3 linked regions of the Homo sapiens genome follow. The protein of the gene in region 3 purifies or fractionates together with the protein of the main gene of each other region. This does not show direct contact. Each region holds a gene or a part of one and is shown on either strand. Other genes may lie near its edges.

The links. The genes of interacting proteins can lie anywhere in the genome.
Region 1: the proteins of CCDC88C (region 3) and WDFY1 purify together in Homo sapiens (affinity purification with mass spectrometry; 2 studies listed by BioGRID and IntAct, with this or other methods). This does not show direct contact.
Region 2: the proteins of CCDC88C (region 3) and ALDH1L1 purify together in Homo sapiens (affinity purification with mass spectrometry; 2 studies listed by BioGRID and IntAct, with this or other methods). This does not show direct contact.

What each region holds. Positions count from the first base shown.
Region 1 is NC_000002.12:223,878,964-223,887,210, reverse strand, and holds part of WDFY1 (WD repeat and FYVE domain-containing protein 1), read left to right. Parts: intron 1-2,461; coding exon 2,462-2,563; intron 2,564-5,138; coding exon 5,139-5,269; intron 5,270-6,978; coding exon 6,979-7,087; intron 7,088-8,247. UniProt on the Homo sapiens protein: Positively regulates TLR3- and TLR4-mediated signaling pathways by bridging the interaction between TLR3 or TLR4 and TICAM1.
Region 2 is NC_000003.12:126,177,215-126,185,752, reverse strand, and holds the start of ALDH1L1 (cytosolic 10-formyltetrahydrofolate dehydrogenase), read left to right. Parts: upstream 1-5,166; 5' UTR 5,167-5,277; exon of another isoform or gene 5,278-5,688; intron 5,689-8,538. UniProt on the Homo sapiens protein: Cytosolic 10-formyltetrahydrofolate dehydrogenase that catalyzes the NADP(+)-dependent conversion of 10-formyltetrahydrofolate to tetrahydrofolate and carbon dioxide.
Region 3 is NC_000014.9:91,270,752-91,276,501, reverse strand, and holds the end of CCDC88C (protein Daple), read left to right. Parts: intron 1-2,848; coding exon 2,849-3,877; 3' UTR 3,878-5,179; downstream 5,180-5,750. UniProt on the Homo sapiens protein: Required for activation of guanine nucleotide-binding proteins (G-proteins) during non-canonical Wnt signaling. Binds to ligand-activated Wnt receptor FZD7, displacing DVL1 from the FZD7 receptor and leading to inhibition of canonical Wnt signaling.

The DNA of each region.
Region 1 (8,247 bases), on a different chromosome or scaffold from region 3:
CCCCAGGTAGTATCCCCACACATCACCAGCCTCCATCACCACCTGCCTTGCATTGATCACAGAAACAAAGAAGTAATTCCATATCAAGAAAATAATCTTTCTCACATAGATACACATCTCTTTATTCTTCTTTCATCCCTTCTCATCTCCAACATTCCCCAGTTATTTAAGGAAACCTTTCTTCTATCTCAGCCTATTTCAGTCTACTTGTGAGTGCCTTCTGCACCCCCACCTCAAAAAAAGGCCTTTCTAATGTCTGTTATATGTAGAAATATTTCTAGTGACCGATCTAAAATAAGAAATAGGAAGGCCAAAAGTTTTGATGCAATAGGAGAGAAAATGAAGAACTAGGGGCACCCATCGTTCAAACCACCAAATATATTAATATATATTTTAGAAAAAATATTTTCTACTATTTTTGTTGCACATATATAATGTTAAGTGATTGGGGTTAAACAGGCTTTTTTTTTTTTTTTTTTTTAGACGGAGTTTCACTCTTGTCGCCTAGGCTGGAGTGCCGTGGTGCAATCTCTGCTCACTGCAACCTCCACCTCCCAGTTTCAAGCGATTTTCTCTCCTCAGCCTCCTGAGTAGCTGGGATTATAGGCATAGGCATGTGCCACCACGCCTGGCTAATTTTGTGTTTTTAGTAGAGATGGGGTTTCACTACATTGGCCAAGCTGGTCTTGAACTCCTGACCTCAGGTAATCCGCCTGCCTTGGCCTCCCAAAGTGCTGGGATTACAGGTGTGAGCCACTGCGCCCGGCCTAAACAGGCTTTTAGCAGGTTTGTCTTAGAATTGAGTATAGTTTGTAATTTTTTGTTTAGAGAAATATTTTCTAAGTTTTTATTTTGTTTTGTTTTGTTTTTTGAGACAGAGTCTTGCTCTTGTCGCCCAGACTAGGGTGCAATGGCATGATCTTGGCTCACTGCAACCTCCGCCTCCTGGGTTCAAGTGATTCTTCTGCCTCAGCCTCCCAAGTAGCTGGGATTACAGGTGTGTGCCACCACACCCGGCTAATTTTTGTATTTTTAATAAAGACGGGGTTTCACCGTGTTGGCCAGGCTTGAACTCCTGACCTCAGGTGATCCATCTGCCTCGGCCTCCCAAAGTGCTGAGATGACAGGCGTGAGCCACCACACCTGGCCTATTTTCTAAGTTTTTTAACAAATTAATTTTGAGACTGCTTCCTCTGTTTCAACAAAAATGCATTAAAAACCTACTGTGTGACAGGCTGTGGCTAGATCAAGATGAATAATACCAAAAAGTAACTCATTGGTTAGAGGGGAGAAGAAACGTGCACCAAGAGTTCCAGTACCAGAGCTTGCTGCTCAGTGAAGCTGCAGGATGCCTGTGTGGCCCCAGGAGGGAGGGACGTGCTGCTGTGGCTGGGAAGGGAAGGGGGGCAAATCTGCCGGCATAGTCCCTACCCAGAGCAACTAGGTGATGGGGTTTTGTCAGATCTCTTCTGTTAGTCACCTGTGACCCCGCAAGCCTTTCCAAGTGGTAGGTCACCAGATTCTGCTGCATGCACTGGGTTTCTACTCAACTGGATTTAGAGTTCAAACATCTTTGGCATAAAAAAGAAATACATAAAGACAACCCTTAAGGGTTCACAATAAAAACTGATTTACTCCCTCCTATCTATAGATTACAAATTGAACACCCTGTAACCATGGCTAAAATTGCCATGATTACTCGGCACACAGTTAAGGCTGGGCGCAGTGGCTCGTGACTGTAATCCCAGTGCTTTGTGGGGCTGAGGCAGAAGGATTATTTGAAGCCAGGAGTTCAAAACAAGCCTGGGAAATATAGTGAGATCCTGTCTCTACAAAAAAATAAAAATAAAAAATTAGCTGGGCATGGTGACACTCACCTGTGGTCCCAGCTATTCGGGAGGCTGAGGCAGGAGGATCATTTGAGCCTGAGAGATCAAGCTTGCAGTGAGCCATGTTCACGACACTGCACTCGAGCCTGAGTGACAGAGTGAGACCCTGTCTCAAAAAAGACCCCCCCCCACACACAATTAAACATAATATTGAATATGACAACTAGCTAGAATATTTCGTGGAATTAAAAAGAAATGCTAACTGGCCGGGCATGGTTGCTCATGCTTATAATCCCAGCACTTTGGGAGGTCAGGAGTTTGAGACCAGCCTGGCCAACATGGCAAAACCCCATGTCTACTAAAAATACAGAAATTAGCCTGGAGTGGTAGTGCATGCCTGTAGTCCCAGCCACTTGGGAGCCTGAGGCAGGAGAGTCACTTGAATCCAGGAGGCAGAGGTTGCAGTGAGCCAAGATCACACATACTGCACTCCAGCCTGGGAGACCAAAAAAAAAAAAAAAAGAAGAAAAGAAATACTAACCTTGGCAAGGTCTAGAACTGTTGTATTAATTTTGAAACATGGGAGTAAATATAGACACACTGATGGTGGCTTTGACTTTCTGCTCCCCCAGGCTCCTCAGTGGTTGGAAAGTGATTCTTGTCAGAAATGTGAGCAGCCATTTTTCTGGAACATAAAGCAGATGTGGGACACCAAGACGCTGGGGCTAAGACAAGTGAGTAGCCACTGTCGAGTCATCTCTGGCTTGATTGTGTATTTCACTATTTGCATACTTAATCTGGGGTTTTTTTGAAACACACTTTGTTTTTGCAAATGCTATTAATTCCTACATTTTCTATGTCTTTATCATTGTGTGACTAACAATGAGGAAGACCTTTCCCAGGGCCAGTGAGACTGTTACCTCACTTTTCCATTGCTTGTCCTGTATTGGAAAGGCAGGGGTGCGTAGAAAATCCTGAGAGCCTATTTTTAAACAGATAAAAGATCTTTCAGTTTAAGACTATTACTTATTAAAGTCAGTGTTTTATGCTAGCCAAGAACAAAATTAGAATAAAGTCATACAGTTATATACCTTATGCTGTCACAAACAGATAAAAAGTAATAATTTAGTCCTCACTTGAATGCCTGACCCTATGAGTTTTAGATTATTTTAAATTGTTCCCTTATAAGCATACCTGGAATATTTTTATTAAGCATGTTTTGAGTACTGTTTTTTAAATTTTTTAATTAAAGAAATATGTTCCAAATAGCCTGTAGATTTTAAAGGTGCTGTTAAAGGATTCTTGTAATACTAAAGTTCTACAAAAAAAAAAAAAAGCAGGTAAGTAAAAAAGAATGCTGATTTTATTCCTTTTATTATTGGTTGCATCTCTATGAGCGATTAGCCTAAAGTTTGTATGTGTTAATAAACTTTTTTGGCCCTGCATGGTGGCTCAGGCCTGTAATCCCTGCACTTTGGGAGGCCGAGGCAGGTGGATCACCCGAGGTCAGGAGTTTGAGACCAGCCTGGCTAACATGGCGAAACCCTGTCTCTCCTAAAAATACAAAAATTAGCTGGGTGTGGTGGCGGACGCCTGTAATCCCAGCTACTCGGGAGGCTGAGGCAGGAGAATCACTTGAACCCAGGAAGCGGAGGTTGCGGTGAGCCAAGATCACGCCACTGCACTCCAGCCTAAGTGACAGAGCGAGACTCCATCTCAAAAAATAAATTAATTAATAAATAAAATCTAAAAAATTTTACTCAGAGATACTCCACAGTAAGGTCTCATATGAGACTGGCAGGCAAGAAGGGAATTATTAGTGCTCAGACCATTATAAAGCTCTGAAATAGCACCTGAGTTCTGTCTGTCATTAGCCAAGTTCTCACAATGCATGGCTGATGGTAATTAGTGCAGTATAATTAATAGGTGAAGTATTCCCTACTTCTAAAGGAAACACAGAGAAATGGATTTTACTTCCATTTATTAACAGTTAACAGAAGAGAGAAGAGGTGCTGGTCACTAAACTTTTGGCGGTAAAAGAATATGTCAAAATCAGTAATAATAATTGGACTATTTTGTAATGTTCTTGAGGCTTATTTCCAGAATCACAGTTTGAGAGATTTTAGAAAATAGCAAAATACATGATTATGGGCATTAGTTTCTTAATGAGAGCATAGTGCATTTAAAACTTATTTTAGACCGGGTATGATGGCTTATGCCTGTAATCCCAGCATTTTGGGAGGCCAATGTGGAAGGGTGGCTTAAGCCCAGGAGTTTGAAACCAGCCTGAGCAACATGATGAGACCCCGTCTCTATAAAAATAAATAAATAAAACTTATTTTAAAACCCTTTAGGCTGGGCATGGTGGCTCACACCTGTAATCCTAGCACTTTGGGAGGCCGAGGCAGGAGGATCACTTGAGCCTAGGTGTTCAAGACCAGCCTGGACAACATAGCAAGACCCTGTCTCTGCAAAAAAATCAAAAAATTAGCCAGACATGGTGGCAGACACGTGTAGTGCCAGCTACTTGGAAGGCTGAGGTGGGAGGATCGCTTGAGTCTGGGAGGTCAAGGCCGCAGTGAGCTGTATGCCATTGCACCTTTGCATTCCAGTCTAGGTGACAGAATGAGACCCTGTCTCTGAAAAAAAAAATAATAATAATGCCTTTTTTATGATGGAGGAATAAATTTTTCTTTCCCTAAATCTACAGTGATTAGGCTCCTAAATGAACTAAATTTGTTGTTAATAATATTGTTTGTTAACATGTAGACAGATAATATGAATGAATGAAAAGCAACATTTGACCAGTACAGCAAAGTTTTTTGGAAATCCTTGACTAGTGTCAGAATTGTCTATCTTGTGAGTGTTAATTGATACATTGAATTGGGGTGATTGCAATTCAAGGCATATCCTCCCCGCTCCTGTTGCCCTACTTTAGAGGGAAACCATGTGCTTTAAAGCAAAAGCTAGGCCAGGCGCAGTGGCTCACGCCTGTAATCCCAGCACTTTGGGAGGCTGAGGCAGGTGGATCATGAGGTCAGGAGTTCGAGACCAGCCTGACCAAGATGGTGAAATCCCATCTCTACTAAAAATACAAAAATTAGTCAGGCGTGGTGACAGGCACCTGTAATCCCAGCTACTTGGGAGGCTGAGGCAGGAGAATTGGTAGAACCCGGGCGCCAGAGGTTGCAGTGAGCCGAGATCACGCCACTGCACTCCAGCCTGGGTGACAGAGTGAGACTCTGTCTCAAAACAAAACAAAAAGCGAAAGCTAACACCCTGTTTTCCTCCTCCCGGTCACCTGTGAAGCATCACTGCAGGAAATGCGGGCAGGCTGTCTGCGGGAAGTGCAGCAGCAAGCGCTCAAGTTACCCAGTCATGGGCTTCGAGTTCCAAGTCCGGGTTTGTGATTCTTGTTACGACTCCATCAAAGATGAAGAGTGAGTGTTTGCATATTTTTGTCTCATTGCCTCTTATTACATCTGTCTAATGGTTCTCTGAAATGTGAAGAGCTTCAGAAGTGATAGGATATGTTTAGCCATGTGTTTGTTTCTCCTGAATTTCCTAAGCCATTTTATTTGTTGTTTGTTTTTTGAGACAGAGTCTTGCTCTGTCACCCATGCTGGAGTGCAGTGGCGTGATCTCGGCCCACTGCAACCTCTGCCTCCCGGGTTCAAGCGATTCTCCTGCCTCAGCCACCCGAGTAGCTGGGATTACAGGCGCCCCCCACCACCTGGCTAATTTTTGTAGTTTTAGTAGAGATGGAGTTTCACCATGTTGGCCAGGCTGGTCTCGAACTCCTGACCTCAAGTGATCTACCCACCTTGGCCTCTCAAAGTGCCAGGATTACAGGCGCGAGCCACCGTGCCTGGCCCCTAAGCCATTTTTGAAGAGAGGACCTGCCCTAGCTTTATGACTTAAGACCATGACTATGCATCTTAAGTTGCCCCTCTGACTGGGCAGCTTTCTCCTGAACACAGTGAGGAATGCTAAGTTACATGGTCCAGTAACTGAGTGGATACCCTGAGCCTCTGCATCCCACTGGCTGCTATGCAGGGATAAGTCCATGCACCTGTGGATGGCAGTGGTTGAGCTGGTTCTCTATAAAAGTATCCAGTGCCCAGACCTTTGTTCACACATGCATGTAAATTTACTGGGAAAACTCTAGAGACCAATGTTCTTTCTTCCACAGAAATCTGGCCTAGCAGTCTATTCTTAAATTGCTCTTTGTGTGTAAGACACATCTGTTTGATACCCCACTCTGCCCTGACTTTTAGGCAAATCCGTTAGGACAGAACCACTATTTTCTTTCCTTCCCTTTGAATCATCTTTTAAAGCAGCAGAGGCAAATGTTGGCAGAGGTCCACATTGGAAAGCTAGTGCATCACGACTGGTGTTGGTAAATGAACTAGTGATGGGATTGGGGCAGCTGGGCTTTGAAGCGGGTGCTGTAAGAGGCACTGCTCCTGTGCATGGCAGAGGTTTCAGGGAAAACGGCAGCTCTCTGATGTTTTGCCCATGCTGTATGATTTTATTCAATGCAGTTCTTCTTTTATATTGAAGATTCTTGTTTTTATATCTAGGAATGTATCAGCCTTTCCAGTAAAAAAAAAAAATCAGTTATTTTGGGAATTTTATAAAACAATCTTGTGATTTAACATGCTTTCTGTCATCATTAAATTATAAGGTTAGTTTTCAAAACCATAGCCACAATTTTAGGAGCAAATTTTAACACTATTATCATAAGCATTTACTTTTTTTTTTTTTTTTTTTTTGAGACTGAGTCTTGGTTGATCACCTGGGCTGGAGTGCAGTGGTACAATCTCGGCTCACTGCAGCCCCCACCTCCCAGGTTCAAGCGATTCTCCTGCCTCAGCCTCCCGAGTAGCTGGGATTACAGGCGTGTGCCACCACACAGAGCTAATTTTTATATTTTTAGTAGAGACGGGGTTTCACCATGTTGACCAGGCTGGTCTTGAACCCCTGACCTCAAGTGATCCACCCGTCTCGGCCTCCCAAAGTGCTGGGGGTACAGACATGAGCCACTGCACCTGGCCATATTTGCTTATTTTATGTTGCTAAAAAAGCTTACCCCACTAGCTCTAGGTACAGTCAAGTAAATTTTCAGTGATCTCTTTTCTCTTGTTAGTCGGACTTCTCTAGCGACCTTTCATGAAGGAAAACATAACATTTCCCACATGTCCATGGACATTGCCAGGGGACTGATGGTGACCTGTGGGACCGACCGCATTGTAAAGGTAAGCTGGCTAATTGTCTGTCAGCATCTCAGTTGAGATTGCCTATTACCATGCTGTGAATGTGCAGGAGACAGTCACTCTTTCTGACTGGCAAGCTTTATAAGCAAATGATTGCCAGTTTAAAACCTTGAGTAACAAATTGCTTGCCTCTGAGTTTCCATGCATTCATTGGTGGTCAGTCCCAGTGGCACCTCCCTCTGCAGTGTCTGTCTGGCAGAGTGAGTCTGGCACCCTGTATATCCCTATGGGTGGAGTTGACCTCTGGGTTCTCCCTTGCTGGCCTGGGTCCTCACCCCTGACCCATCTCAAGACATTCCTACGCTTGCCAATGTTCCTTTTCATCCTGGGCAGAATGCGTCCTCAGTATAAGGAATAACCACACATTTTAACAATTAAATCCCTGGGTCACTAACACATAAATTGAAATGAAGTGTTTTATACTTAGTACCACTCTTTTTTTTTTTTGAGATGGGTCTTGCTCTGTTGTCCAGGCTGGAGTGCAGTGGCACAGTCACTACTCACTGCGGCCTTCACCTTCCAGGCTCAAGCAATCTTCCCACCTCAGCCTTCCAAAGTAGCTAGAACTACAAGTGCCTGCCACCAGGCTTGGCTAATTTTGGGGGGATTTTTCATAGAGATTGGGTCCTACTATGTTGCCCAGGCTGGTCTCAAACTCCTCGGCTCAAGCGATCCTCCCATCTCAGGCTCCCAAAGTACTGGGATTATAGGCATGATCCACCATGCATGGCCTAAGTACCACTCTTCAGTGGTGAAACTGAGATATTCTATATTCCTGATGGGCTTTTCTAAAAAAAAAATTGAATTTATACTAAAACATTATTATGATTTAATTTTTATGTGTAAAGACACTACCTATATGCTTTATTCACATTTTAGTGAACTACATTGTTTTATCTTTCTGAAAATCTTTTTGTTTGAGACAAGGTCTCGCTCTGTCACCCAGACTGTAGTGTAGTGGTGTGACCTCGGTTCAGTGCAACCTCTGCCTTCTGGGCTCAGGTGATCCTCCCACCTCAGCCTCTTGAGTGGCTGGGACCACAGGCATGTGCCACCACACCAGGCTAATTTCTGTATTTTTTTTGGTAGAGACAAGGTTTTGCCACGTTGGCCAGGCTGGTCTTGAACTCCTGGGCTCAAGT
Region 2 (8,538 bases), on a different chromosome or scaffold from region 3:
CTGGCCTATGAAATCAGAACATCTTGTTACCACTGGACAACAGAGTGAAACCCACAGTCTGCACCCCATGTTGTGGCCTCGTGACCCCTGACTTTGCCAGCTTCTCTCCTGCAGCTGCAATGCTTTCTCCTGATTCCTCAAAAACAACCCACATCCCCACCTCCATGCACCAATGCATCATTCTTACATTCTCTCCAACTGGAACGTTTCTTATTTTTTGCTGGTTAAAGTCATCACAGTCTTACTGGGCCTTATCTCCCAGGTGAAGCCTGAAGTACCCAGACCCGCTTTCTTCATGTCTCACCTCTGTGATGGTTCACATCCCCTCCCACCTTTCATATCTGCCACCTGTGCATTCATCTCCCCCATAGAGGTGCGAGCACCTGGAGTAGAGACACCGTCCCTGCCTCCTCTTTGCTCATTTATTCCTTTACAGTGAGTTTCTGGGGGCCATGTGCCAGCCAGGTGCTGGCACCAGCCAGTTTGCATGGGGGTGCAAACACGCAACACCCCCAGGTTAGATTTGGCATGGGGCTGGAGAGGACCTGGCAGGAGCAGGGCTGTAAGCTCTGTGGCCCAGAAGCATTCCATCTATGTCTGCAGGTCATCAGGTGGGCTCTGGTGTGTGGCACAGAGCTCTGTTAAGTCTCATCCCTACCTTCGCCTCTACATGAAAAATTGCATGCAGGCCCTTTAAAGGGGGAAATATGGAGAAAACCATTTTGAATTCTTGGTTCCCACTGGGGAGAGGTTCTAAGGGGTGGGGATCAGGTGACATCATGAGTAACTCACGAGGCAGGGTAGAAGCATCTGAACGAGGCATCCTAGGAGATAAAGAGAAACACTGGCTCCAAAATTAAAACAAAACAAAACAAAACAAAAACAAGCCCAGGTCACTTGGCCTCCCCGCTTTGATTTCCCACAGGCTATGACCTTCAAGTTAATGTTTCCTTTGCAGCGTACACACAGTCCCAGTTACTGATTCCCCAAAAACAAGCTGAATCATCATTATACAACAGAAAGAGAACCCATGTCTATCCCATCCCCCATTCACAGAGCCCTGAGCCAGGCTTGTCTCCTAATCTGCCTCTGGATTGGAGCAGTAGCCCCCATTGTTCTACCCAGACTTGGGCTGTGTAAGTGCACACTGCTTTCCCTGGGAGGACTTAGCCACCAGGGCCCTGCGGAAAGCCCGGGCAGAGGCTCTCTCTGCAGGGCTTATCCAGCCACTGTCACTGCAGGTGCCTCTCCTGGATCAGGGCCTGTGCAGGGCTGTGGGATACACAGATGAAACAGGCCCTGTCCCTGCCCTCAGAGGTGTTGCAGTTGATAAAGAGACAGACACACATATAAATAGTTGCATTAGAGTGTGGTCTGTGCTGTGAGTGAGGGAATTCCCAAGGAGAAGGTTGGGGTCAGGCTTCCCAAAGGAGATGATGCACAAGCCCATCCCTGGGGCACAGGCAGGGCTCAGCTGGTGGCTTCAAGAAGCAGGGCATTCCCGGCACAGTGAACTGAACTGGCAAAAGAGGGTTTCAGTGGGACTCGTTCAGAGAGTATCATATAGTCCTGGGACAGGGACAAGCTGGCTTCTGCCACTGTCTGACCTCAAGCCTCAGCTTCTCTCTCTGGTCTATGAAAGGATGGATTCGGAAATCACACAGTTACTTCCACCATCTTTCATGTGTTAAAAGGAAGTCACTACGTTCAGCCTACATTCAAAGGCAGGGGAATTAAGTGCCACTCCTTGAATGGAAGAGCATCAGAGAGTTTTAAAATGACCACAGTCCACCTACTGGCCACAAACTACTTACATCCTTCCACATGCAAAATACATTCGCCCTCCAAACATCCCCTCAAAGCCTCATCCCACTGTAGAATCAGCTCAATATCCAGAATCTCTGCATCTAAATCAGGCTTTGATGTGGGTGAAGCACCTGGGGTATTATTCCCTCAAGTGTAGCTCCTTGAGTAGAGTTGCTCTCAATCTACAGACTTAGGAATTCCAGAGACAAATTAACTGCGCCTCCCCCCTGCACCCACCTGACATAAACTGGTGGGATAGGCATTGGATAACCACTGTAGACGTGCCTGCTCCAAAGGGAACAAGGACAGGAGGCATGCAGGAGTAACTAGTGTACGGCAATTCTAAAATCTTCCTGGGCGGGTCCTGAAAGTCTCTTGAATAGGACTCAGTCTGACTCTGGCCCCAGAGTGATTCTCCACGCTCTTGGCTCCACCCTTTGGGTTCTTTGTTCTATTCCCCAAGTCATCCCTTCTTTTCCATGAAATGCAGCCCAGGTTCATATCCGTATAGTTTCTCAGCTTGCTTCCTCCCAGAATTTGGGGGAGTCTAGAGGTCTCTTTTCATTTTATATTGTCTCTGACCCTTTCAGTCCAAGTCTACACTGTTTTGCTCATATAATTCTTTTAAAAATGTTGCATGTCTCCTGTAGATCTCACTGAGGTTCATGCCTTTAGACAACTGTCAAACCCACACATCTCTTTGAGAAAAGCCCTTCTCTCTCTTGGGCTTCTGCTGAGACTGCTGTCAAGGACAACTGTAAGCTTCTTAGAAATCCTACTATTTAACAAAATATTCTGAGGTGTCCCTTTGTTCTCTTTGAAGATTTTACAAAAGATCTCATGACCACACTCTTGGCTTCATCTTTAGGCCATCTTCCTTGCACTGGCCTGCATTTGCTCTTTGCCTGGAAGCCATTTGTTAGTTTTAGCATCATATGACATCTGGAGAAGCTGGACATTTTCACAGCCCAAGTTATGGTTCCTTTTTATTTAACAATCCTTCCTTTGGCTTATGTCCCTTCTCTCACATTTTAGTATAAGCAGCAAGAAGAAGCCAGGAGGAGGCACCTTCAACAATCTCCTTAATGAGATCCCCCAGTTCATCTGGTACATTTTCTACTTTCCACATGATTTCGGAACACTTTCTGCTTAAAATTCCCTCCTCTCCTGCTCCATACCTCTAAGAGTATGGATTCCTCTCTGATTTCCTAATACATCTTTTTGGGGTGTCTAACCTCCAAGCCATTGTTCAGTGGTTCCTGTCGCCCATCTGCCTTCTCAATTTTAACTCCCAAGTTCAGAACACACCACTTTCCCATTGCAGGCCCCTAACACTCAGCCAGTTTTCCTACAGATTATATGGCACACCTTCCACACACAGGGCATGCATTCAGCCCTGGGGACTTCCCAGGAGAATAAGCTAGTCTTCGCCATCATTGTCCAGAGACATGTTAATCAAGCAATCCCAGAAGCAGTGATAAAATTGCAGTTGAAGGCAGGGTGCAGTGGCTCATGCCTGTAATCTCAGCACTTTGGGAGGCTGAGGTAGGTGGATCATCTGACGTCAGGAGTTTGAGACCAGCCTGGCCAACATGGTGAAACCCCGGTGAAACGTCTACTAAAAATACAAAAATTAGCTGGGTGTGGTGGCGCATGCCTGTAATCCCAGCTACTCAGGAGGCTAAGGCAGGAGAATCGCTTGAACCTAGGAGGTGGAGGGTCCATTGAGCTGAGATTGCACCATTGGACTCTAGCCTGGGTGACAGAGTGAGACTCTACCTCAAAAAAAAATAAATAAATAAAGTTGAGAGAGGTTCATGAAGAAAAATTACAGGCCTCTCTGTGATCACATAATGGAGGAATCTGTCCTAGTAAGGCTGAGGCTAGGGAAAGCTTCCCTGAAGTCATGGCATTTTAGTAGGAACTTCCTGAAGAATGATGGGGGTTCTCTGGACAAAGATGAACGGCACATGGAAACTTTATGAGTCGAGAAGTTCCACAGATATGAGGGACAGCAGGGAGACCTGCAGGCTGGAGCCTAAAGAACAAGGGGACAGTGCCTGAAAGTAGGCTAAGTGGATCAGCAGGCACAGGCCACCTCAATCCTGGGTGCCCATACTGGCTTATGTGAGCAAAATACATGCATTAAGCCATTCAACAAACATTTATTTAGCAACTGCTACAAGCCATCACTGTGTATTGGGGATACAACAGTGAATACATCTCACAAATTTCCTGTCCTCAAAGAGCTTACAGTCTAGTGGGAGAGACAGACAATGAACAAACAAAGAAACAAGGAAATATCAGATATACAGTTAAGTGCTGTGAAGGAAATAGAACAGGGTGATGTGGCAGGGAGTGGCTGAGGGACTTCCTTAGTTTGTGTGACCTGGAACAGCCTCTCTAAGGCTCTGCATCAGATATCTGATATGTGATACCATATGGGAGCAGGCTCTGAAAGAACACTACAAGTAGAGAGGTAAAGGCAGGGGCTGCAGCAAGCCTGATGTGTTCAGGCACTGAGCAGAGAGAGGGCCAGGTGGTCGGGACTTAGCGAGAGGGTCGCCTCAAAAGAAGTGAGGCTTAGCAGGGCACGGAGCAGTGCGGCCGCAGGTGTGGTGGGAAGGGTGTTCCAGGAGAAGGAGCCACCTGGACACAGGCTTGCAGTCATGAAACAATACGCAATTATCACTCCCGGCATTCTACATGGCCTTGCCTGAGACCGGGCTGGCCAGGATCTCTGGGAACCAGGAGGAGGGGTCTGCGGCACCAGGACTGAGTAGAAGGGAGAGAGTGGAGAAGGGGAATTGCAGAGAGAAAACCAGGGGCTGTTTTTCTCTCGGAGAGGCGGGTAGGCACTGGGCGGGCAGAAGCGCCGCTATCCACCCGGATGCGCAGCTGCTAAGGGGCCGCCTCTGCAAGCGGCTGCAAATTCCCGGAGGGCAGCGTCTCCTTTCGCTCTGCTGTGTCCGTAGCACATGGCAGGTACTTGGCCCATCAAGAGTGAGAGAGGGTGAGCGAGTGAGTGAGTCACCGGCTTGGCGAGGGTCTCCTCTGACCCACTTAGCCTTGCCAGCGCTCAGAACTGCCAGCCCTGCTGGGTGCTTGGGACTTTTCAAAGCCCTGGGAATTCTCCAAGGGTCCACAGTAAGTCTTCTTGACCTAAGCGGGAAAGAGCGCAGGCCCCTGCGGGGTTGGCTTTTACATGGCATTTATAGACCCGCCCGGAGAGGGTGCGCTGCGCTCCCGCCATAGTCCCACCACCGGTGAGCGCCGCCCCCACTCGGCTGACTCTCCGCCCGCCCCGCGCCCCTCCCCTCACGGGCTCTGGCCTTAACCAGAGCTCGCGGACTGGCGGGGACAGGTCCCACCTCCTGGCTCCCAGGACGGGTCTGCACCAACCTCAGTTTCGGGGCTGCGGCTCACAGAAGTCTAACCTGCCCGGGACGCCCGCACCAACTCCTGCGCGCGGTGAGTTTCTGGGCTCTCGAGAGCGCTGGACTCCCGGCGGAAAGGAGGCTGCCCCGGCTGCAGCTCCGGGGGCTCCGGGGGCTCCAGGGGCTCCAGGACTCGGTTCTCACCGCAAGGGCTCCTGCGGGGCCCATCAACTTCGCCGCTGGGACGCCGGGCTCGGGGTACGGGTCCGGAGTTCTTTGGAGCAATTGAGGCTGAACCTGGCCAGGGGTCATCAGGCTAAATGACCGCAGCGCCAGGACTGGCCCGCCGAGGATCTGGCCGGCCGCGGTGGTAGGGCCCTTACGGAGCTGGCGCCAACCTGTGGGGTGGGCACTGCTGGCCCGGCTTATGGAAGAGAAAACTGAGGCTCGATAAGAGAAAGGGACCAGCGAAGGCGACGCGATGATTTGTGACTGGGGACTACCTGTTTCCTGGGCCCCTCGACCCCATTCTGTGACAGGGAAAGGTCTTCCCTGATTGGCCAAATCTGGGGGCCTGGCACGAGGGCCTCTTGTGATTGGAGGGGTCGACGTGAGCGCTCAGGGGCTGCGCTGGAGTCCCAGCTCCAGCCACTGCGCTCAAGTGGACGGTCGCGCGTGCAGAGGGAGGCCGGATAGCAGACCCCACAACGTGGCTCCTGGGGCCCCGCTATCGAGAGCTCAGGCCCCGCGGGCACTTGCCTAGGAGAGGAAAGAATCTTCCCAAAGTGCAGACAGAGACGGAATTTAATCAGGAGTCCCAGACTTGGAGTTTGGAGGCATGGGCTCTGGTGTCAGGTGACTTTGTTTCCTCCCCACGCCTCCACTTCTCCTTGACCTTGGGCAAGTTTCTTGTGTTCTGAATCTTAGTTTCTTGTCTCTAAAATCGGGAGGGGCAATGAACAGTAGTGCCTGCCTCCCAAGATTGCTTGAGAATTACATGAGACTGCCCCGCGCCTGGCCCTAGGAAACCCTCGGAGAATGTTGGCTGCTGTTTGTTTGTTTGTTTGTTTGAGACAGAGTCTCGCTCTGTCGCCCAGGCTGGAGTGCAGTGGCACGATCTCGGCTCACTGCAACCTCCGCCTCCCGGGTTCAAGTGATTCTCCCGCCTCAGCCTCCCGAGTGCTAGAACTGCATTCATGGGCCCCAGGGCCCTAGCACCAGAACAGAGGGCCCAGAGCTGCAGTCCTGCAGGGTGGCCCAGCCTCACAGGGACTAGAAGCTGGGTCCTGGAGAGCCAAGCCTGGGCTGGGAATTGGGTAGGAGGGTTGGGAGGCCCAGGAAGCCTCCCAGTGTCCCCACACCACCAAGTGAAAGGACACTGAGCGGCCATGACTGGGGGAGGAGGTGGAGGCCTGGAGGCGGCCCATACGGCCCACAAGGGGCTCTATGGGCTTCACTGCAGGCCCCTGCTCTTTCTGGGGCCAAAGGGCAAGCCTGATTGAGGCCCCTCCCAAGGCTCCCGTGCCTGCCATTCTGGCTTTCCCTGGACTGTGACAACAGCCCCTTGGTGGCCACCTGGACTCTGCCTCCCTGCAGGGGGGGAACGACATACTCTTTTATTTTTTTTTTTCAGAAGTAATCATGTACAATATAAAAAAAGAACATTCAGTTAAGAAAACAAAATAATTACAGTCGTCAAAAACCTCTGAAACCCAAAACCCTTTACCCAGTAACTTTCAACATTTCAGTGTAAATTCTTCTAGGCTTTTACCCTGCAGATAAACACACGCATGCACACACAGACACACACACACACACACACAAACTTAAGCCTTACACAATTATCGTGGTTTGTTACTTGTTGGGTGTTTTGACAGTGTCAGGTTTGTATAACTCAATATTTACCAATATTTTCTAATAATTTAATGTTTTCTTCTTATATTTGATTTTCAAGTATTTATTTTTAACCCAATTGGACTGTATTTTAGAGTAAGATGTGAACTATAGAGCTAGATTCATTTATTTATTTCAATTAGTAGACATTTTTAGAGCAGTTTTAGGTTTACAGAAGAATTGAGGACGGAGTGCAGAGTTCCCATATTCTCAGTCTGTCCCTTCCTGCGCGCTTTCTCCTATTTTTCTTTCTATTCTTTTCCTTTCTTTTTTTTTTTTTCTTTTTTTTTTTTTTTGAGACAGGGTCTCACTTTGTTGCCCAGGCTGGAGTGCAGTGGCACAAACACAGCTTACTGCAGCTTTGAACTCCTGGGCTCAAGTGATTCTCATGCCTCAGCCTCCCAAGTAGCTGGGACTACAGGCATGCACAACCACGCCTGGCTAATTTAAAAATTTTTTTGTAGAGATGGGTCTCACTTTGTTGCCCAAGCTGGCCTTGAACTCAAGGGCTCAAGTGATCCTCTGCCTTGGCCTCCCAAAGTGCTGGGATTACAGGCATGAACCACTAGGCCTGGCCTCCCCTATTTTTAACATCATGCATTGATAGGATATTTTTGTTACAGCTTTTTTCTTTTTGAAACAGTCTTGCTCTGTTGCCTAGGCTGGAGTGCAGTGGCACAATCTCAGCTCACTACAGTTTCTGCCTCCCAGGTTCAAGCAATTCTTGGGCCTCAGCCTCTCGAGTAGCTGGGATTACAGGTGCACCACCATGCCCAGCTAATTATTGTATTTTTATAATAGTAGAGACAGGGTTTTACCATGTTAGCCAGGCTGCTTTTGAACTCCTGGCCTCAAGTGATCAGCCCGCCTTGGCCTCCCAAAGTGCTGGGATTACAGGTGTGAGCCACCAGGCCTGGCCAATTTTGTTATACTTGGTGAGCCAATATCGATGCAATGTTATTAATGAAAGTCCATAATTTACATTAGAATTCCCTCTTGGTGTTGTACCTTCTATGGTTTTGGACAAACATATAATGATGAGTATCCAGTGTTACAGTATCATAGAGAATAGTTTCACTGCCCTAAAACTCTCCTGTGCTCTACCCATCCACCCCCCAACCCCCCTACCTATCCCTGGCAACCACTGGTTACTGCCTTTGTAGTTTTGCCTTTTCCAGAATGTCATATAGTATGTATGAATCATATGGTATATAGCCTTTCCAGACTGGCTTCTTTCGCTTAGCAAAATGCATTTAAGCATCCTCCATGTCTTTCTGTGACTTGGTAACCCATTTCTTTTTATCATTGACTAATATTCTGTTGTATGGATGTGGAGGTACCACAGTTTATTTCTCCATTCACATACTACAGGATATCTTGGTTGCTTCCAAGTTTTAGCAGTGAATAAAGCTGCTATCAACATTTGTGTGCAGGTTTTTGTGTGGACATTAGTTTTCTTCTC
Region 3 (5,750 bases):
ATCAGCAGGTTTTCTTTGCCTGCATGTGCTGTGCCCAGCCTTGCAGTTGACACGAGAGAAATATAAAACATGGCCCTGGCCTTCCTTCATTTAAACATTTCTCTTTCCCAAGCACTTACTCTGTGCAAGGAGCTGGAGAAGCCAAAGCTGGAGAAAAACAAAGGAGGGCCTGCCCTCGAGAAGTTAGCGGTCTAATGTTGTGGTTCTCAAACTCAGGCGTGCGTTTGAATCGTCTGGGGGCCTTGCCAGACCACAGAACCCATCCCCTGAGTTTCTGAATCAATGGGTCTGAGGTTGGGCTCGCTGAGAATTTGCATCTTTATAAATTCCAGATAATGGTCTTGCGGCTGGGTAGGCACCATGGTTTAAGAACCACTGGTCTGGCCGGGCGCGGTGGCTCACGCCTGTAATCCCAGCACTTCGGGAGGCCGAGACGGGCGGATCACGAGGTCAGGAGATCGAGACCATCCTGGCTAACACGGTGAAACCCCGTCTCTACTAAAAATACAAAAATTAGCCGGGCGTGGTGGCGCGCGCCTGTAGTCCCAGCTACACGGGAGGCTGAGGCAGGAGAATGGCGTGAACCCGGGAGGCGGAGCTTGCAGTGAGTCGAGATCGCGCCACTGCACTCCAGCCTGGGCGACAGAGCGAAACTCCGTCTCAAAAAAAAAAAAAAAAAAAAAGAACCACTGGTCTAGGCCAAGCGGTGGCTCATGCCTGTCATTCCAGCACTTTGGGAGGCTGAGTTGGGTGGATCACTTGAGGTCAGGCGTTCGAGACCAGCCTGGCCAACATAGTGAAACCCCATCTCTACTAAAGATACAATGAAACCCCATCTCTACTAAAGATACAAAAATGAACCGGGTCATGGTGGTGGGTGCCTGTGATCCCAGCTACTCGGGAGGTTGAGGCAGGAGAATCTCTTGAACCCGAGAGGCTCAGGTTGCAGTGAACCGAGATTGTGCCACTGCACTCCAGCCTGGGCAACACAGTGAGACTCTGTCTCCAAAAAAAAAAAAAAGAACTGCTGGTCTAATGGACTGAACAAGAACACTCCAGAAATTGGGGGGGCCCACAGCTGGAAGGCTTTCCTTCTCAGTCTTTTTTTGTTATATGCCCCTTATGATGCTTTCCTTTCCCTTTGGAGATCTGGCAGGCAGGTCCTGAGCAAGGAGTGGGGCCCCTCCCTGCTCAGCTCAGACTGGTCTTCACAGTCCCCATTCCCTGTGCCCTGTACTGTTACCTTTCCATTTTTAGCTTAAATGAGACCAAAACAGTCTGGCTGTAGCAGCTTCTGTTGAAAGCTGATGTCTGGCATGCAGCGAGCCAGCCCCCTCTGTCTGCCTGGTATATTTAACCCCCTACCCCTGACACACCTGACTTCCCTCCTGGTACCCCTGACACACAAGGCCCCTAATGTACACAGGGGCTTCCCATCCCAGGGAAATGACAACCGTATGCCCACCGCGCCCCCACTCTCTGGGCGTCGATGATGCAGGGAGGGCATGTCACAAGATGGGGCTCCCTGCGTGGCCAGGAAGGGTGGGTATCAAAGGCTCTGAGGTGTGCAGGGAGGAGCCTGGTGGAGTGGAAAGCAGCTCTGGAGTCAGGCAGCCATAGGCTTTCATCTGGGTCTGCCTCTCTGGACGCATGGCCTGCCAAACCTCCGTGACCTGTTTCTTTACCTTGATACAGCCTTTCAACAACCTTGCGAGGTCATTTTGAGAATTAAATGAGTTTCTTTGCAATTATACATGTGGTTCCCAGAACAGCACATGGCCCCACAGGTGATGAAAGGTACCTGTGATATCACGGGTCTTACTGGACGCCCACCCAAGATGTGTAGCGTCAAACTAGCATAAAACAGCAGATGTATCTCTGTCCAGTGGCACCATGTCCAGATGTTTGTGTGGGACAGGAGTTGCTGGCAGGTGCAGATGGCTCCTGAGCTACCAACCCGCCTTCAGGCTGACACCTGCCGGCCTCTCATCCCCCATGAACTCACTTCTCTTCCTCTTCATCCATGTCAGCCTCAGGAGAAGCTAGGCTTGCAGAAGGCTGCAGTTCCTGAGTGGGGCCATAGACCCTTGCCTCTGTGGCTCTGCCTATTCCCAAGGTGGTGGCAAATGACACCTGCTCCCTGGGCAGGGGAAGCACAGCCCGGGCGGCAGCTTAGCAGGGACAGTGTGGCGGCTGGGCCTTCCTGGTGTCTTCATTTCCCTGTGCAGCCCCACCATTCCCCCTTCTGGACCCTCGCGGACCCCATTTGTACCTCTCTGTCCCCCACCCCCTCCCATCCCCATTCTGCCTCTCTCTTCTCTTTCTCGGGCCCAGAGAGAGGTCTGAGTGGCAGTGAAGGTTCCGGCGTTTCAAGAGCTGCTCTTGTTCCTCTTGCTCTCGGTGGCGCAAGGTGAAGTCCTTATGATGTCCCGGGGTGACCGGGGAAGGAAGGCCCTGCTCATATCCGCCAGCATTCTAGTTCCTGCTGTGCTTGGTGGAAACCAGACAGACCGAAGCAGTCGGCTATAGTCGAGGTTTCTGGGAAACTTACTCACTTTGTAGGAAGTCATTTCCCTCTCTGGGTCTGTTTCCTTATCTGTAAAGTTAGGGGGTTGCCTGGGGGGAATCTGGGGTTCTTTCCTGGTGGTCCCATGCTGCCTTAGCCACCCTCACCATCCTGCCCAGGGCTGGTGTGTGTGGTGGAGGCGGCACATGTGCCTCGGAGAAGGCAGGCAGGAACTGCGGTCCCAGCCACGTGGGCTGCTCGGGGGCGTCCCGCGCAGGAGGCGGCTCCAAGGACCCACCCAACCCTCATGCCCACCTCCAACCTTCACTCTCTTCTCCGTAGGACACTCCCAGTTGCCGGGATGACCTGCTGAGTGACTACTTCCGAAAGGCCAGCGATCCCCCAGCCATCGGAGGCCAACCAGGACCACCTGCCAAGAAAGAAGGGGCCAAGATGCCCACCAACTTTGTGGCCCCCACCGTCAAAATGGCCGCCCCCACCTCGGAGGGGAGGCCGCTGAAGCCCGGGCAGTACGTAAAGCCAAACTTCAGACTGACTGAGGCCGAGGCCCCACCCAGCGTGGCCCCGAGACAGGCCCAGCCTCCCCAGAGCCTGTCTCTGGGCAGACCCCGGCAGGCTCCGGTGCCCCCAGCTTCCCATGCACCTGCCAGCCGCAGTGCCTCCTTGAGCCGGGCCTTCAGCCTGGCCTCAGCTGACCTTCTCCGGGCCAGCGGGCCAGAGGCCTGCAAACAGGAGTCCCCTCAGAAGCTGGGGGCTCCTGAGGCCTTAGGGGGCAGAGAGACAGGCAGCCACACCCTGCAAAGCCCCGCACCCCCCAGCTCCCATAGCCTGGCCCGGGAGCGGACCCCACTTGTGGGAAAGGCTGGCAGCTCCTGTCAGGGCCCAGGTCCCCGCAGCCGGCCGCTGGACACGAGGCGCTTCTCCCTGGCTCCCCCAAAGGAGGAGAGGCTGGCCCCCCTGCATCAGTCTGCCACAGCCCCCGCCATTGCCACTGCAGGTGCTGGTGCTGCTGCTGCTGGCAGTGGCAGCAACTCCCAGCTCCTGCACTTCTCACCTGCTGCAGCCCCGGCTGCCAGGACCAAGCCCAAGGCGCCCCCACGCTCAGGGGAGGTGGCCACCATCACCCCTGTCCGGGCAGGGCTCAGCCTCTCAGAGGGAGACGGGGTCCCGGGGCAGGGCTGCAGTGAGGGGCTTCCGGCCAAGAGCCCAGGTCGGTCTCCCGATTTGGCTCCCCACCTCGGCCGGGCCCTGGAGGACTGCAGTCGAGGGAGCGTCTCAAAGAGCAGTCCGGCCTCCCCGGAGCCCGGCGGGGATCCGCAGACCGTGTGGTATGAGTACGGCTGTGTGTGACTGTCTCGTGGTTGAGCTCGCAAACCTGAAAACTACTGACGCGCCTTCCGACTCTCACGGCCTTTTCTCTTGCTTGCCTGCGGTGCCAGGAGAGGGTTTGGAATGAGGAAAGGGGTTCCCACGCATTTCTGCTGTTTGTTCTGTGAATGGAAACACTGTGCCAAGCCCCAAGAGGATTACGCTTCCAGGTGTGTAACGTGTTTTCTGTGTCTGCCGCTTCCAGCAGCTGATATCTTTGGAACAAATAATCCACGTCAGCATGGGGACCAATTAGGATGCAATGACAAACTGACTTCCCCCAAAGCAGACACTACTCCAGTATGTCCCAGTAGAACACTCATTTGCAATGTGTTGAGCTCCGTTAAGCACACACACACTCACACAACAGGCTTACGAGGCTCAGGCCTGGCGGGTCAGAAAGCCCACTCCCTCTCCCAAGGCCACTGGATCCCAGGAGAAGCCCAGACTGGCGATACTACAAAGGTCTCCAGGGCCTGGCAGACCCCAGAGTCAGGCCTGCTGTTAAAAAGTGAGAGTGCTGCTGTTCCATTCCTGGGGTCCCAAGCACTTCCCTTTACCCCAGGACCCAGGGCAGCCTGCAGGGCAGCTGGCGGTGGCCTTGGCCATTTGCCCCCAGCCTCCAGCTGGCTCCTGAGCTCTGCACCAGGGGGTTTGGGGACCACACAGGCACCTGCCTTCCTAGATTTCCCTGGCTCACTTTTCTGCAAACACTGGATCTGCCAGGCCTGGGGATTGGGGGGCAGGAAAGAGGCCCCCATCCAGCCCCCTCCAGGCCAGTGTGCACAGTGCACCGAGGGGTCATCCGCACAGAGCGAGGTGCAAGCTCGATGTGTAACCTGGCTGCGGCACCCGACATCCCCGGTCTCGGGGTGTTGATTTATTTCTGAATAACTTTTTGGGTATAGAAACCAATTTTTTTTAATATATGACATGTATATGTACACACTCATGTGAAATATGTATACTTTGGGGGGATCTATTTATGTTCCAGTGGGAGTCACTCTCTTCTGTCGGGAATCTTATCTGCTGCTTTGTGTCTTTGGTCAGATTCCTGACAATTTAGTTTCCTGTTGTAAAGGTGCTTTTCCTGGGGTGAACTAAACCTATTGATTTTTTTTTTTTAAGATTTTTTTTTCCTTTTGATTTAATATACTGAGAAAGAAATGGGAGACTTTTGAATGTTAACAAGATCCATTTTAGGAGTGTTTGGGGTTGTGTATTAAATAGCCATTCATTCTGGAACTCAAGGACAGGACTGTAATAAAATGGAATGGAACCGAAGTGCGTTCTGGCTTTCCTCACTGCACATTGTTAGCATCGGGTGGGCCCCTGGGGACTTGGGGCTCCCTGCGCCCCTCCTTATGCACCCCTCCCTCTGCTCCCCTTCCTCTGTGCCCCTGCACCCCTCCCTCTGCGCCCCTCCACCCCTCCCTCTGCGCCCCTCCCTGTGCCCCTCCCTCTGCACCCCTACCCCTGCGCCCCTCCACCCCCCTGCGCCCCTCCACCCCCCTGCGCCCCTCCACCCCCCCTCTGCGCCCCTCCCTCTGCACCCCTCCCTCTGCACCGCTCCCTCTGTGCCCCTCCCTCTGCGCCCCTCCACCCCTCCCTCTGCGCCCCTCCCTCTGCGCCCCTCCACCCCTCCCTCTGTGCCCCTCCCTCTGCACCCCTCCCCCTGCACCCCTCCCTCTGCATGCCGGCGACCCTTCCTCCACAGTTGGAATCCACCACTTTCCTTGCCACTAGGTGGGGGAAGCTGTTACACGTGCAACCAGAGACAGATGTGAAGGACAAAGATTTCCTGTACGGTGACAGCTTTCCACCCCTCCTCAGGTGTGTTTAAGTTGGCATCAAT